Regions from separate parts of the Homo sapiens genome. Here regions 1 and 2 are each linked to region 3. The links come from fine-mapping of genetic effects on gene expression. A gene starts in region 3. Each other region holds a variant in brackets. All regions are shown on one strand. Distances are from middle to middle.

Region 1 (5,234 bases), 120 kb before region 3:
TCAGTGATGTTACTGTTTTTGTTGCTGTTGCTGATGCTATTTCTTACATGGAAGAGTTATATAACTAGGGAATACTGAGTGACATGATGAATTTGCTGTATTCATGGAGTCAATAAATAGAGTGATTCAGTAGAATGGATGAAAAACTTGGCCTATGCAGGCACAAATGCCTCACAGTTTCTCAGGATTAAAATATAGATGCTTATTGGAACTTCCAGAACCACTTCTATTGGTTGAGTATTGCATAAGGATGACAATGACGTATATCAAGAGTCTCAAAGCCAACTGGGCTTTTTAAATTAAAACCAGCAATTTGCATTGCTTTTATTTTTTTCCATTTTTATTTATTTTTATTTCTGTTTTTTATTTTTCCATAAGGTATTGGGGTACAAGTGATATTTGGTTACGTGAGTAAGTTCTTCAGTGGTGATTTGTGAGATTTTGGTTCACCCATCACCCAGGCAGTATACACTGCACCCCATTTGTAGTCTTCTATCCCTCGACCCCCTCCCACTCTTTCACCCCAAGTCCCTAAAGTCCATTGTATCATTCTTATGCCTTTGCATCCTCATAGCTTAGCTCCCACATGTCAGTGAAAACATATGATGTTTGGTTTTCCATTTCTGAGTTGCTTCACTTAGAATAGTAGTCTCCAATCTCATCCAGGTCACTACAAATGCCGTTAATTCATTTCTTTTTATGGCTGAGTAGTATTACATCAAATATATACACCACAATTTCTTTATTCACTCATTGATTGATGGGCATTTGCATTGGTTCCACGATTTTGCAATTGTGAATTGTGCTGCTATAAACCTGCCTGTGCAAGTATCTTTGTCGTATAATGACTCCGTTTCCACTGGGTAGATACCCAGTAGTGGGATTGCTGGATCAAATGGTAGTTCTACTTTTAGTTCTTTAAGGAATCTCCACACTGTTTTCCACATGTAGGTGGGGATGTACTAGTTTACATCCCCACTAGCAGTGTAGAAGTGTTCCCTGATCACTGCACCCACGCCAACATCTACTGTTTTTTGATTTTTTTATTATGGCCATTCTTGCAGGAGTAAGGTGGTATCACATTGCGGTTTTGATTTGCATTTCCCTGATCATTAGTGATATTGAGCATTTATTTTTTATTTTTTTTTTATTTTTTTTGAGACGGGGTCTTGATCTGCTGCTCTGTTGCCCAGGCTGGAGTGCAGTGGCGCGATCTCCGCTCACTGCAAGCTCCGCCTCCCAGGTTCACGCCATTCTCCTGCCTCAGCCTCCCGAGTAGCTGGAACTACAGGTGCCCACCACGACGCCCAGCTAATTTTTTTGCATTTTTAGTAGAGACGGGGTTTCACCATGTTAGCCAGGATGGTCTCGATCTCCTGACCTCATGATCCGCCCACCTTGGCCTCCCAAAGTGCTGGGGAGCATTTTTTCTTGTTTGTTGGGCCATTTGTTTGTCCTTATTTTGAGAATTGTCTATTCATGTCCTTAGCCCACTTTTTGATGCGATTGTGTTTTCTTACTGATTTGTTTGAGTTCATTGTAGATTCTGGATATTAGTCCTTTGTCAGATGTACAGATTGTGAAGATTTTGTCCCACTCTGTGGATTGTCTGTCTACTCTGCTGACTGTTCCTTTTGCTGTGCAAAAGCTCTTTAGTTTAATTAAGTCTCAACTATTTATCTTTGTTTTTATTGCATTTGCTTTTGGATTCTTGGTCATGAAATCCTTGCCTAAGAATGTCTAGAATGGTTTTTCCAATGTTGTCTTCTAGAATTTTTATAGTTTCAGGCATTAGATTTAAGTCCTTAATCCATCTTGAGTTGATTTTTATGTAAGGTGAGAGATGAGGATCCAGTTTCATTCCCCTACATGTGGCTAGCCAATTATCCCAGCACCATTTGTTGAAAAGGGTGTCCTTTCCCCACTTTATGATTTTGTTTGCTTTCTTGAAGACCAGTTTGCTGTAAGTATTTGGGTTTATTTCTGGGTTCTCTATCCTGTTCCATTGATCTATGTACCATTTTTATACCAGTACCATGCTGGCTTGTTGACTATGGCCCTACAGTATAGTTTGTAATCAGGTGGTGTGATGCCTCCAGATTTGTTCTTTTTGCTTAGACTTGCTTTGGGTATGTGGGCTCTTGTTTGGCTCCATATGAATTTTAGAATTGTTTTTTCTAATTTTGTGAAGAATGATGGTGGTATTTTGATGGGGATTGCAATGAATTTGTAGATTGCTTTTGGCAGTGTGGTCATTTTCACAATATTGATTCTACCTATCCATGAGCATGGGATGTGTTTACATTTGTTTGTATCATCTATGATCTCTTTCAGCAGTGTTTTGTAGTTTTCCTTGTAGAGGTTTTTTGACTCCTTGGTTAGGTATATTCCTAGGTATTTTATTTTTTTGGCAGCCCTTGAAAAAGGGGCTGAGTTCTTGATTTGATTCTCTGCTTGGTCGCTGTTGTATAGAAGAGCTACTGATTTGTGTACATTAATCTTGTATCCGGAAACATTGCTGAGTTATTTTACTAGTTCTAGGAGCTTTCTGGAGGAACCTTTAGGGTTTTCGAGGTAAATGAGCATATGGTCAGCAAACAGTGACAGTCTGACTTCCTCTTTACTGATTTGGATGCCCCTTATTTCTTTCTCTTGTCTGACTGCTCTGGCTAGGACTTCCAGTACTATGTTGTAGAGGAGTGGTGAGAGTGGGCATTGTTACCTTGTTCCAGTTCTCAGAGAAAATGCTTTCAACTTTTCCTCATTTGGTATTATGTTGGCTGTGGGCTTGTCGTAGATGGCTTTTATTACATTGAGGTATGTACCTCATATGCCAGTTTTGCCGAGAGTTTTAATCATAAAGGGATGCTGGATTTTGTCAAATGCTTTTTCTGCATCTATTGAGATGATAGTGTGATTTTTGTTTTAATTCTGTTTATGTGGTGTACCACATTTACTGACTTGCAT[C/ATATTAAACCATC]ACTGCATCCCTGGTATGAAACCCACTCAATCGTGGTGGATTATCTTTTTGATATGTTGCTGGATTTGGTTAGCTAGTATTTTGTTAAGGATTTTAGCATCTATGTTCATCAAGGATATTGGTCTGTAGTTTTCTTTTTTGGTTTTGTCCTTTCTGGTTTTGGTATTAGGGTAACGCTAGCTTCATAGAATGAATTAGGGAGGGTTCCTTCTTTCTCTATCTTGTGGAATAGTGTCAAAAGGATTGGTACCGATTCTTCCTTGAATGTCTGGTAGAATTCTGCTGTGAATCCATCTGGTCCCAGGCACTTTTTGTTGGTAAATTTTTTTTTTTTTTTTGAGACAGAGTTTCGCTCTTGTTGCCCAGGCTAGAGTGCAATGGTACGAACTCAGCTCACTGCAACCTCCATCTCCTGGGTTCAAGCGATTCTCCTGCCTCAGCCTCCCAAGTAGCTGGGATTACAGGCATGCACCACCACACCCAGCTAAATTTGTATTTTTAGTAGAGATGGGGTTTCACCATGTTGGTCAGGGTAGTCACGAACAGTAATTTTTTAATTACCATATCAGTCTCACTGCTTGTTATTGGTCTGTTCAGAGCATCTAATTTTTCCTGATTTAAGCTAGGAGGGTTGTATTTTTCCAGGAATTTATCCATCTCTTCTAGGTTTTTTAGTTTATGTACGTAAAGGTGTTCATAGTAGCCTTGAATGATCTTTTGTATTTCAGTGGTATCAGTTATAATATCTCCTGTATCGTTTCTTAATGAGGTTGTTTGGATTTTCTTTCTTCTTTTCTTGGTTAATCTTGCTAATGGTCTATTAATTTTATTTATCTTTTCAAAGAACCAGCTTTTTGTTTCATTTACCTTTTGTATTTTTTTGTGTGTTTCAGTTTCATTTAGTTCTGCTCTGATCTTGGTTATTTTTGTTTTCTTCTGCTGGGTTTGGGTATGGTTTGTTCTTGTTTCTTTAGTTCCTTGAGGTGTGACCTTAGAATGTCAGTTAGTCTCTTTCAGTCTTTTTGATACAGGCATTTGGTGTTATGATCTTCCCTCTTAGCACCACCTTTGCTATATCCCAGAGGTTTTGATAGGTTGTGTCATTACTGTCGTTCAGTTTGAATAATTTTTTAATTTCCATCTTGATTTTGTTTTTGACCCAATGCTCATTCAGAAACAGGTTATTTAATTTCCATGTATTTGTATGGTTTCGAAGGTTCCTTTTGGAGTTGATTTCCAGTTTTATTCCACTGTGGTCTGAGAGAGTGTTTGATATAATTTCAATTTTCTTAAATGTATTGAGACTCTTATGGCCTATCATATGGTCTATCTTGGAGAAAGTTCCATGAGTTATTGAATAGAATGTGTATTCTGTGGTTGTTGGATGAAATGTTCTGTATATATCTATTAAGTCCATTTGTTCCAAGGTATCGTTTAAATCCATTGTTTCTTTGTTGACTGTCTTTCTTGATGACCTGTCAAGTGCTGTCAGTGGAGTATTGAAGTCCCCCACTATTATTTTGTTGCTGTCTATCTCATTTCTTAGGTCTATTAGTAATTGTTTTATAAATTTGGGAGCTCCAGTGATAGGCACATATATGTTTTGGATTGTGATATTTTCCTCTTGCACAAGGCCTTTTACTGTTATATAATGTCCCTCTTTGTCTCTTTTAACTGCTGTTGCTTTAAAGTTTGTTTTGTCAGATATAAGAATAGCTACCCTGCTCACATTTGGTGTCTATTTGCATGAAATGCCTTTCCCCCTGCTCTTTACTTTAAGCTAATATGAGTCCTTATGTGTTAGGTTAGTCTCCTGAAGGCAGCAGGTAGTTGGCTGGTGAGTTCTTATCCGTTCTGAGGTTCTGTATCTTTTACGTGGAGCATTTAGGCCATTTACATTCAATGTTAGTATTGAGATGTGAGGTACTGTTGCATTCATTGTGCTATTTTTTTGCCTGTGCACCTTGGATTTTTTGTTTTATGTTTTTGCCTTTTAACTTGTTTTTTGGTTTTATAGGTCCTGTGTGATTTATGCTTTAAAGAGTTTCTGTTTTGATGTGTTTCCAGGATTTGTTTCAAGATTTAGAGCTTCTTTTAGCAGTTCTTGTAGTGGTGGCTTGGTATATCGACGTCTCTCACCAATTGTTTGTCTGAGAAAGACTGTATCTTTCCTTCATATATGATGCTTAGTTTCGCTGGATACAAAATTCTTGGCTGATAATTGTTTTGTTTGAGGAGGCTGAAGATAGGTCCCCAGTCCCTTCTAT
Region 2 (5,234 bases), 28 kb after region 3:
TGTCAGTCTGGGCATTGGAAGAATTACTAAGGACAAGATGACCTAACGTGACCCAGATATGGGAGGGAAGGAGAATAAAAAAAGGAGAAAAAGAATAACAAGAAAGGGGAGGGAAAAGACCAGCAGCAATGAGGGAAAACTAGAAAATTTTGTGTCTGAGAAGGAATTATGACAGAATACAAGTTGGGGGACAAGTTTGCCTTTGCCTCAAGCTCCTCCCTCCCTTGTCCTTCACAGGCCAAAGGACCAGACTACCCTCAGAACCACCTGCAGAAGAATCCTGTTCCCTCCCATGCTAAGTTTCTGGGTGCATAGTTAGAGGTCTTGCCTGTCTCTAACCCTGTTTTTCACCTGGCTTGGGATAATGCAGATAATGCAAAGAGTTGGAGCCTGTGCTCAGCTCTGTTAACTACTTGTGAGAGGTGGACACAAGCACAGGCCTGTAGTCAACATTTGTTTGCACCATGAATTTATTATTTATTATTGTGTCCCTGAGACAATATGACCCATAAAGAGATGGTGCCAGTTAATCGTAGGTCAGTCTCCATTCAAATAAAGTCCACATTCTCTTTGGAGAGCAGACATCTTTGCAAGACTACTGACTACCAGTCATCTCCAGCCCTTAGCTTAGGCTTGATCACTGTGACTCTGATAAGCTTCTCCTTGGCATGCTAGCCTCACACGCTCTCTCTAAGTCTACTCCAAAAGGCTTTCTGGCAGCTCTATTTTGTAGGCTTGGTCTGTCCCACCCACATATTTTCTATTGCTGATTGCCAAGATGCCTGTAGCCAATGTTTGTTTGCACCATGAATTTATTCTCTAGTAGGAGGAGGGATAAGAAGTTCAATAGCCGAATTAGTATACAAAAAGGGCAAAAAGAGGTAGTGTGGAAATATAAATTAAACTCTGTGGGATCCCAAGAGAAAAGATGATTAATTACAACTAAGTGAATCAAGAAATGCTTCACGGAAATGGTATTCACACTGGGCTTCTGTGGGCAGGTTTCAACAGACAAGGTGGGAAAAAGGCATTCCAAGTGAGAACAATGTAAGATGGGGACAGAGCTGGAAAAGTTCAGTGTAGGTGGAGTTCTGATCATCAAGGGCCTTCAATGCTGTGCTCAGGAATTTGAACTTCATTCCATAGACAGTTGTGGACCAGTGGAAGCTTCTAAGCAGAGGAATGGTATCAGATCTGATGATAGTGACCATTTATTGAGTACTCACTATAATCTAGGCATCGTGCTAAACACTTCACAGGCATTCACTTAGCCTTCATAATCACCCCATGAGGATGGTGGACTTGGACAGTAGTTTGAGAATGGGCTAGAAGCAAAATAAATGGTTAGGGATGACATAGTAGGAGAGGCCATGGTCTCAGTGGTTTAGTCCCTTGTCCCTAAATTGTAAAGTTTACTAACAATGGCAATGAGAACTGGAGTTAGAAATCTGAGGTGGCAGAATCAGAGGACCTGGTGACCAGTTAGCTCCTGGGGTCAAAGGAAGCAAGTGGTTAGGGGATCTAGTAAACAATGCCAGCAGACCCTTGTCTTGGGAACTTAGCTCCCCTACCTTCCACCAAAATCCCAATCTCAGGAGAAAGGGGCATTTTGCTATCCACTGAATATGAGACTTGAAGATTCAGAAGATTATAGCCATGAAGGCTTTTCCAGTTGGTCCAGGTGGGAGACCAGACAAGATGTAGAAGCAAATCAATTAGGGGCAATAAAAACACTTCCCTATCTGAAGCGCTCATCATATGGCAGGCACTGCACTAGGCACTTCATAGACCTCATCTCACTGAATATTAACAATAACCTCATGATTAGGGTCCCTGCTGTACTCTAAGATAACTGAGATTTAGACAGATTAGGTAACTAGCCTGGGTTCACATACTAAGCAGAATTGAGATACACACCCAGAGTCTATGCTTATGACAGTGCAAGAAACTGCCTAAGAGGAAGACTTAGGCAGAGAAGACTATGACAGTGCAAGAAACTGCCTAAGAGGAAGACAGACTTCTCAAAAAGCAGCCAAGACAAGTCTGGCTCAAATTGGATTCATTCTCATGTCTACTAATGCATTTATTAATTTACCCTTTCATTTATTCATACACTAAACAATTGCTGAGCACCTGCTCTGTGCGGGCATTGTGCTAGCTATTTGGGATAAAAAAAAACTAATAAGACACCATGTCTGTCTTCAAGGAGACTATTCTAGAAGTGAAGGCAGGCAAGTGAACAGATAATTATAATGCACAGAGGAGGAAAGCAGCTAACCTGGCTTGTGGGGCTAAGGAAGGGAGTTGGAGAAGACTTCCTAAGGTGATACCTGAGCTCAGTCCAGGAGTAGAGGGTGGCTAGGCTAAGGCAAGGAAGTGAGAAGAGAGCAATGTTCCAGGCAGTAGGACTGTTGCAAAGGGGTTTGGGTCATAATCCTGAGAGACATGATCCAAAATGCCATAATCCTGAATACTGAAATCCCAAAAGATTTAAACCCCTAAAGTCTAAATTACAATCACAGTATAGACGTATCATTTTAGGCAGAACTATTACTTGTTATTGTCTTCATTGGAAATGAGGTATGTTTAAGGAGATGTGTGTGAGTGCCAAGTTGACAAGGGGTGAACTTGTGGACTTAATTTTAAATGTCAACTTGACTGGATTAAAGAATACCTAGAAATCTGGTAAAGCGTTATTTTAGGTGTGTTTGTGAGGGTGTTTCCAGAGGAGATTAGTGCCTGAGACTGAGTGGATTAGCTGGGGAAGATCTTTACCCAATATTAGAGGACACCATCCAATCGGCAAGGGTCCTGGAGAGAACAAATACAGAAGGCTATTGGCATCTGAGAGCTGGAACAGACTTTTCTTCTGCTGCCTTGGACATTAGAAAACACTGAAACTTCCTCAACAAATGAAGAGATGTCCTTTTTGTGCACCTGTATTTATGAAAGATAAGATTTCTCGAGATCGGCCGGGCACGGTGGCTCACGCCTGTAATCCAAGCACTTTGGGAGGCCAAGGCGGGCGGATCACGAGGTCAGGAGATGGAGACCATCCTGGCTAACACAGTGAAACCCCATCTCTACTAAAAATACAAAAAATTAGCCAGGCGTGGTGGCGGGCGCCTGTAGTCCCAGCTACTCGGGAGGCTGAAGCAGGAGAATGGCGTGAACCC[A/G]GGAGGTGGAGCTTGCAGTGAGCCGAGATAGTGCCACTGCACTCCAGTCTGGGCGGCAGAGCGAGACTCCGTCTCAAAAAAAAAAAAAAAAAAAACAATTTCTCGAGATCTCAGCTCTTTGAGAAAGTGCATATGATGAGTTGGTGACCCATTGCATTTTTTGATCTATTTCATCAAAAGACTTAGGTTGTTTATCACAGTATTTCAGATGGTTACAGTTATGAGACTGGGTGTACACAATTACCAACCATAATGATATTTATATATACATTTCACTTTTTGACCTATTTCTTTATGAATACAGTTGTCTGCTCATCACGATGTGACTGTCAGTATACCTGAGTAGTTATGATTGCAAAAATGTATTACTTTTATCTATTTTATTGTATAAAGTGGCCTGTGAGTGTTCTGTCATTTTTATATGTATCTCAAATAAAATATCTTTAAACTAATTTTAAAATTACTTTTCCCAGAATTGTAATTTTGTGATTTTGATTTTTGGGGATTTCAACATGTGGGATTATCACATTTGAGATTGTGTCTTTTGGGATTATGATTGGCTCTTGGTGCAAAGAAACAACAGACAGAAACAACAAGCTCTATACTGAGATCTACAAGCAATTTGGATTGTCAAAGGCAATCTTGAGAGGCAGAGGAGACAAGAGGCTGGAGTAGGGGCAAGAGAATGTTCCATTCAGAGTCATGGAGCTTGGATTTCATCCTACAGGCCATGGGGAGCCACTGAAGGGGAGACTTAGTTTCATTAAAGCTCACTCTGACTGTAGTGGGATGACAGTGGGCCAGGAGGCTGGGGAGGAGCCTGCTGCAATGGTACAAGTGAAGGATGACGTTGATCTGGACTAGGTAATGCTGGCAGAGGCTCAGAGGAAGGGCAGGTCTGAGTAATGTTTAAGGGTGAAATGGGTAGCACTTAGGAGTGATGCTCGGTGGGGACAAAGGGTTGAGGCCCCTTGAGGATGACTCATCCTTGAAGGAATCCCCCAGCAGGTTTCCCACTCTCAGCAGTAGCATAGGTAGTGTGGACACTATCAACCCTTATGCCCAGCACAGATGGTCTGACCAAATGCTCATGGTTACCAAAACACTGCTATTGTGGGGAGCTGAGTCTCTATGCAGAAAGGCTTCAGTCCTGAGGCCACTGGCCAGAAAAAGTCCCTCTGCCTCCAAACTACCCCTTCTTGCTGGGAAGGAAAGTGTTAGCTCAGGAGATCTGAGTTGCTCAAACCCTATACATTCCCAAGAAAGGCCTGATTTCCGCAATGGCCCTTGGCCAGTTTCCGGGAGATAAGCTCTGAGTCCCTGGATATTCTGCCTGATAAGGGACATTTTGTTTGCTTGAGGCCTTGGGTCACATGTTACCAGTTGGATCAGATTGTGCTAACAATGTGACTTGTGGCAAACACTTGCTTTTGGTCTAGGAGTGCTGGAGTCTGAGTAGCTGAAACCAGTCACACAGGTACAGCATGCCTACATGACAGATCCCCAATAAAAACTCTAGACACCAAGGCTTGGGTGAGCTTCCTTAGTTGGCAACACTTTATATGTGTTATCACACACTGAGGCTGAGAGGATTAAATACATCCTGTGCAGCTCTATTGGGAGGGAACATCTGGAAGCTTGCACCTGGTTTCTCCTGGACTTTGCCCCATGTATCTTTTCCCTTTGCTAATTTTAATCTATATCCTTTTGCTGGAATAACCTGTAACCATCAGTACAACAGCTTTCTGAGTCCTGTGAATCTCTCTAATGAATTGTCAATGAAACCTTGAGCGCCTGGGGACCCCTGACACACACCCAACTCTGGAGTGACAGAAGAAGGGACTGTTGGGAAAGCATGCAGCCAGAACCTGGCATTTCACCACAGAGTAGGTTCTGTGCAAACAACATAAGTGGGGCACTTATGTATTGCACAGAACAGATGGGCAGGAATGAACACTTGCAGAAAACACTGGGAGGATGTTTCCCAGCTTATCCAGAGTCCAAGGCCACTCCGCTCTTCTCCAAGTGGCCTTGGTGGTCTTGCTTTTGTCCAACACA
Region 3 (5,234 bases):
GTTTGTGGTGAAGGTTAAATAAGTTAATATGAGCAAAGTCACTATACCTAGGTCTGACACATGGAAAATGCTCATTGTAGTTTGGCCACCAGAGCTATGGACAGACACACACACACACACACACACACACACACACACACACACACACACACGGGTGAGTATATCTGGATATGTTTATTTTTCTATGTCAATATATATCTGTTCCTCAATATGTATTTATACTGAATAATAATAATAATGATAGCCAACACTTACTGAACATGAGTTCTAGGCATTAGTTTAAGCACTTTACATATATTATCTTGTTCACCTTCAGAAAAAAACATGACATAACATTACATAACATGCTTTGATTATTCTCATTTTACAGATTAGAAAACTAAGGTCCAAAAAGGTTAAGTAACTTACAACTAAATTCACACAGCTAGCATATGACAGAGCCACAAAGCCGGACTTTTTAAGTCACTACTTATCACCTCCCCATTCATTTAATAATATTATTTAATATTACTCTTATAGTCTATAATATCATAATTTGTATGGTGCTTACTATTTCATCAAATATTTTCAAATACATTGGGTCTCATAGCGAGCCTGTGAAATGAGAAGTGCAATATTATTATTCTCATTTTTACAGGAAAGAAAATTGATAGAACTGAACCATGGGTGTCCTTTAGTGGAAGCGTTTCTATGTTACAAATATCTGGGGTACCTCTGTACATAGAGTCACATCATAAATGAACTGAGTACCTATAATGTGTCAAGCTCAGACATTAGTGCTGGGGATATAAGCTACAGACCTCCCCTGGAAGCATCATAGCCTAGGAAGAGAGACCAGTGTGGTAACCAAGAACCAAGAATCACGGTACACAATATGTAGTCTCTAAGGGAGACATGAAAGGAGTGCTTATGGAGCACAGAAGGAGGGGCCATCTGTGCCAGGGAGGTCTTAGAAAAGGCAAAGGGGTGGGGGAGGGGGAGGCTTTGATGGAAGAAAGAATGTGTGTGTGTGAATGTGAATCCATGTCTGTGTCTATGACAGTGTGGCTAGGCATCACTAAGTATGGATCTGAGTGTGTACCTGTTTATACAGGCTTACTTCTGTAAGCATTAATTTTTGTGTATGCTGGCTGCTGGTATAGAATGAGTAAGCCTGAACATAAAAGGGAATTTGTCTGGTATCACACACACCATAGCAGAATTGGACCTGCCCTGATAGGCACACCCTGTCATGACTCCCCAACACCAGGGGAACCAGAGATGCTGGTCCTTTCCCACTGTAGCAGCTGCCCACTCTAGAGCTATGGTGATTAGACCCACCAGTTTTTTTCAATCCATCAGTATGGATGTGTGGTGGTCTAATAGAGCCAGCCAGCTTGTATGATGAAGGGGGAGGAGGTACAGGTGTCTGTGGGTGTGCATCTGTGTGCACACTTCTGGTTGTGTGTGAATGCTTAGCATTGGCTGTTCCTAACTAGAGTGAGAAAACCTCCCTTCTCCCTTCATTGTCACCACCTTGGGGTGTTTATCCACTCACCCATTTCCATTGCCACCTGTATGGGACCGGCTTCCATCTTCACTTTAACGTTCTGGGGATATCTAAAATATACCTCTGTGCTGGGGTTAGGCAGAAGCAAGGCTGGGGAGTGTTGGTGCCCTTATTTGTTGGAGGCACTCCCTCCTTTCCCCGACCCCTGCCCCATTGTGGTCCAGGAATCTCTCAAAGGAGCAAAAATGTGGGCAAAGGCAAATAGTACTTGTGGAAGCCATGAAAAACCCGGAGGGTCACTCCCAGGGGTGGGCTGCTCAATGTGCCTCCCCTGGTGATAAAATCTGCTTTTAGGGCAAAATTAAGGAAGACAAGTGAGGACTCCTCTCTCCACAAATGTTCCCCTAGGAACTGGCGGGGTGGGAGTAAGGCTGTAATGCTCTTTTATTTCTTTAAGCTTGTATGATCAAAACAAGCTAAAATAATCACAAATAATATGTTATTGATATTAACTATGAGTATCTTCATAAAGTGGCAAAATAATTGAACTAGATTTTATTTTTTATTATAAGGTATACAAATTCAGGGCCATGGGATCATGTAAGGCAAAGGCATTATGTACTGGGACACACTGGTAATTTGTGTTTACATCTTGGCACAAGCACTGCCACGCAGTACAATATATTAGCATGTTAAGATGGGCAAGAATGAAGTGCAATAATCAACACATGTAGCATGTCATATTTCAGCTTGAATGAATGAGTGGGTGGAGAGAAAAACAAACATACAGAAAAGTAGAATTATCTCATGTCGTGGTCCGTGAATATGTGGATTCTCTTTCTAGTTCCACCAATGGCTTAATCTATTGAAAGGTTCTTACCATCTATTGATAAGTTAGTCTCATAGCAGATCATTTCTCAAAAATGTTAATATGCTTAATCAAACCTTACTGAAGTATCTTTTAAAATGTAAATGATCTCTAATAAATGTTGGCTGTTGCATGTCTAAATACTTTATTGCAGCATCTTATATAGTATATATTTCCATGTTCTGGACACAAATATTTTTCTAAATATTAAGGGAAAGTGGTGGCTTTGTAATATGCCAGGGGAATTCTTTGATAGTCAATATATTGTTTATTTGTACTTAAATATTTCATCAATAATCTGGAAAAGAGAAATAGCCTGACTACGGCTAGATACTGTTTAGAGGCTAAGATTTCTATCATGAACTGCTTTTCAATTGTTATATTTTATGGCACAGATTCAGTGGGAATCTGATCTGCTAAAATATTTGGGCTGTGAAAACTCCCACACTGTGACAGATGTCAAGTCCAATTAAGTGACTCATGTCCAGGTTTCTGTCCAATAGGATTTCCCATTAAATATCAATTTAGGGGAAAAAAATTCCATCCCCCTTCCTAAGCCTTTATCTCTTCCACCATCTCCAGGCTGAATCAATTGGTACCAGGAGAGCCCAGAAGCCACACACGCATCTCTGCCTCTTTGCTCTGGCTCTCCCACCCTCTTCCCGTCTTTCTCTGCTTCCTTGTCACTGTTACTCCAGGAGACGTTCACTTTTCACCAACCTTTCTCCAAGCATCTCCAAGCCACTGACTATATATATTTTGCTACAAGGTAAAGAGAAGAGGGGCTGGGGACGGGGGATATAGCCAAACCTTGAAAGACTTTGAAACTGGAAAATAGGTGTCTATTTATACAACATACAAGTAAGTGAGGGAAGAGGAAGAGGCAACCTTAGCTCCTAGTTACAGTATTGTGTTCCTGGGAACTGGGGAGATATCAGCTGAACAAAGCCTTATCTCAAAAAAAAAAAAAAAATCACTTCTGAGCAAGATCACATCTCTGTCCTGCACTTCCCAGTTTCTGCTCAGCCGTATTAAGGAAAAGAAAGGCATACGATAGGAGCGGAATCTTATCTTAACCATCTTTCTTATTGATTATTCCGCTATTAGAAAGTGGAGGAATCAGCCCTTTGATGTGATTGTGTTTATCTCTGCATCTCTTTTGTTATTTTTAGAGACCTAGAAGAGGAAAAAAGGCACGAGACTTTTCAACACATCGTTTAAAAAAATCATCAACGAATTTCTTGCAATGTTTGAGAACAATTAAAAGGAAAAAGCGTTTTTTAAAAAATCTATCAACTAAGTGAACAATCATTCATATCGTCTACATCCTGAGATATTATTGTCCCTCGCTGCGGACACCAGCGAGATGACAGCTGCTTTTTCATTTTTGAATGTAATAAATATTTGCTGCTTTTAATATTTTCCGGAATCTCCCCTCGCTATTCCTTGGAATTTTAACTCTAAAGATTGGAGAACAGATTATCAAAAAGGCTTTTGCAAGGTAAGACTCCTTTAAATAATTTTTTTCAGCTTGAAATAAGTTAGATTATTCATACTGTATCTATAGATGCAGTTCATTCCATAAAGAGATAAAACGCATACACGGCATACTATTTATGAATATTTTTAAAGATCTAGAGGAGAATTTAATGTGCTTTGAGGGCAACCCAGGAACTTTTTACCAGAACTACAACTATTTAGTGGCTTATTGTGATTTTCCATTACTCGTCTATTTATTTCTGCCCTTTCAAGCTGACTGTGTAGGTGCAAGTTGTTCTACTCATAAACGTACCCGAGAAAAGCCCGTAGGGAGTCACATGCAGCTCTCTGGGAGCATTTGTTTTTATTTTGCCGTAGAGGACCTGATTTCCTCGCAGGGAAATTAAAGCTGTTTTGGCCCAATTCGCTCCTCTGCAAGTGCGGTGCTGGGAACCGATCACCCATCCCCTTGCTTTTGTTTCTCTAGAAGCAAACGCTCCTATACGTCGCCGACGCGGATTTCTCCCGTGCCGAGCGTCGTGGAGGCTGCCCACGCCGGGGCCCCGAGTTCTCAGCCTGGTCCTCACTCCCGACGCCCAGGGGCGGTGCGTGCAGCCCCTGCAGGGGCCTTTCTCCTCCTGCCGGGCCCTTTCTCGAAGCCCGAATTACCCGGAAGCCCAGCGGTTCTGAGCGGCCCCCTCCCAGAAGGCGCACAGTCCGGGCCAGTGCTCCAGGCGCCCCAGAGAAGCCTGGCCAGGTGGCGTTTCCAAGAGGGCACAGTTAAGTTAGAGGAAGGCTAAGCACCGACATGCCCGGACTTGGCCAGGCCACCCGGGGACAGCTGCAGCCTGCCGAGCTCCGGTTCCGGGAGCGCCCGAACTTTGCCGGCAGAGATGCAGCTCCCGCCGGGACAACACGCGCTGCACCCGCTAGTCCCCGCCTGCCCCGCCCCGGGCCCTTCCCTTCTCTTCCCTTCCCTCTGCATCCTCTCCTCCCTCAGCGGCCCGGCTGCCGGCATTTTCCCGCAAGGTGGTCGCCAGACTGCCGGGCGCATTGTCTGATCCCACGTCGCCGTGTCCCTAGGTCCCCTATGTGTGTGGCTGTCTGCGTGACAGATGGTGCTCCGGGAGCCTGCGAGGGCATCGGAGTCAATTTTCTTTTTAAAGGCTCCCCCACGTTTGTTTAGTCATTTCTTTACGATTTCGGAGAAGCGCGAGGGGTCCAAGAAGCCTTCCCGCCCCCAGCCACTGGCTCTCCGCCTGCGCTCCAGGATGGGGATTCCTGACCGGCCGCACCCCAGAGCCAGGCGCCCCCGGCGCAGCCCCAGACCAGCGCCAGGCCCTCGGGCGCCGCGGCTGCCGGGTTGCTTCGCCGGAGGCCCTCGGGGCGAGAAGTGCA

Direction of the effects. Positions count from the first base shown, and alleles are read on the strand shown. Sizes are in standard deviations (SD) of each study's normalised expression. Not every link is listed here.
In carriers of allele C in region 1, the expression in caudate of the gene that starts at base 2,948 in region 3 tends to be lower than with ATATTAAACCATC alone (small effect, 0.26 SD a copy in GTEx).

The links. PIP is the estimated chance that this variant, and not a neighbour inherited with it, causes the effect.
Region 1: its variant is the best candidate, but not a certain one, in a credible set for the expression of NHLH2 in caudate (GTEx, PIP 0.64).
Region 2: its variant is the best candidate, but not a certain one, in a credible set for the expression of NHLH2 in lung (TOPMed, PIP 0.54).

What each region holds. Positions count from the first base shown.
Region 1 is chr1:115,963,228-115,968,461 of GRCh38, reverse strand. The region is part of intron 1 of LOC101928977 (a long non-coding RNA gene); the gene reads left to right. Among named protein-coding and RNA genes, the nearest start is that of SLC22A15, 11 kb to the left of the region's middle. The variant C/ATATTAAACCATC (reference allele first, on the strand shown) is at 2,968.
Region 2 is chr1:115,810,651-115,815,884 of GRCh38, reverse strand. No RefSeq gene overlaps it. Among named protein-coding and RNA genes, the nearest start is that of NHLH2, 28 kb to the left of the region's middle. The variant A/G (reference allele first, on the strand shown) is at 3,177.
Region 3 is chr1:115,838,840-115,844,073 of GRCh38, reverse strand. It overlaps NHLH2 (nescient helix-loop-helix 2), which reads left to right and starts at 2,948. Exons shown (of 3, transcript NM_005599.3): 1 at 2,948-3,126; 2 at 3,530-3,858.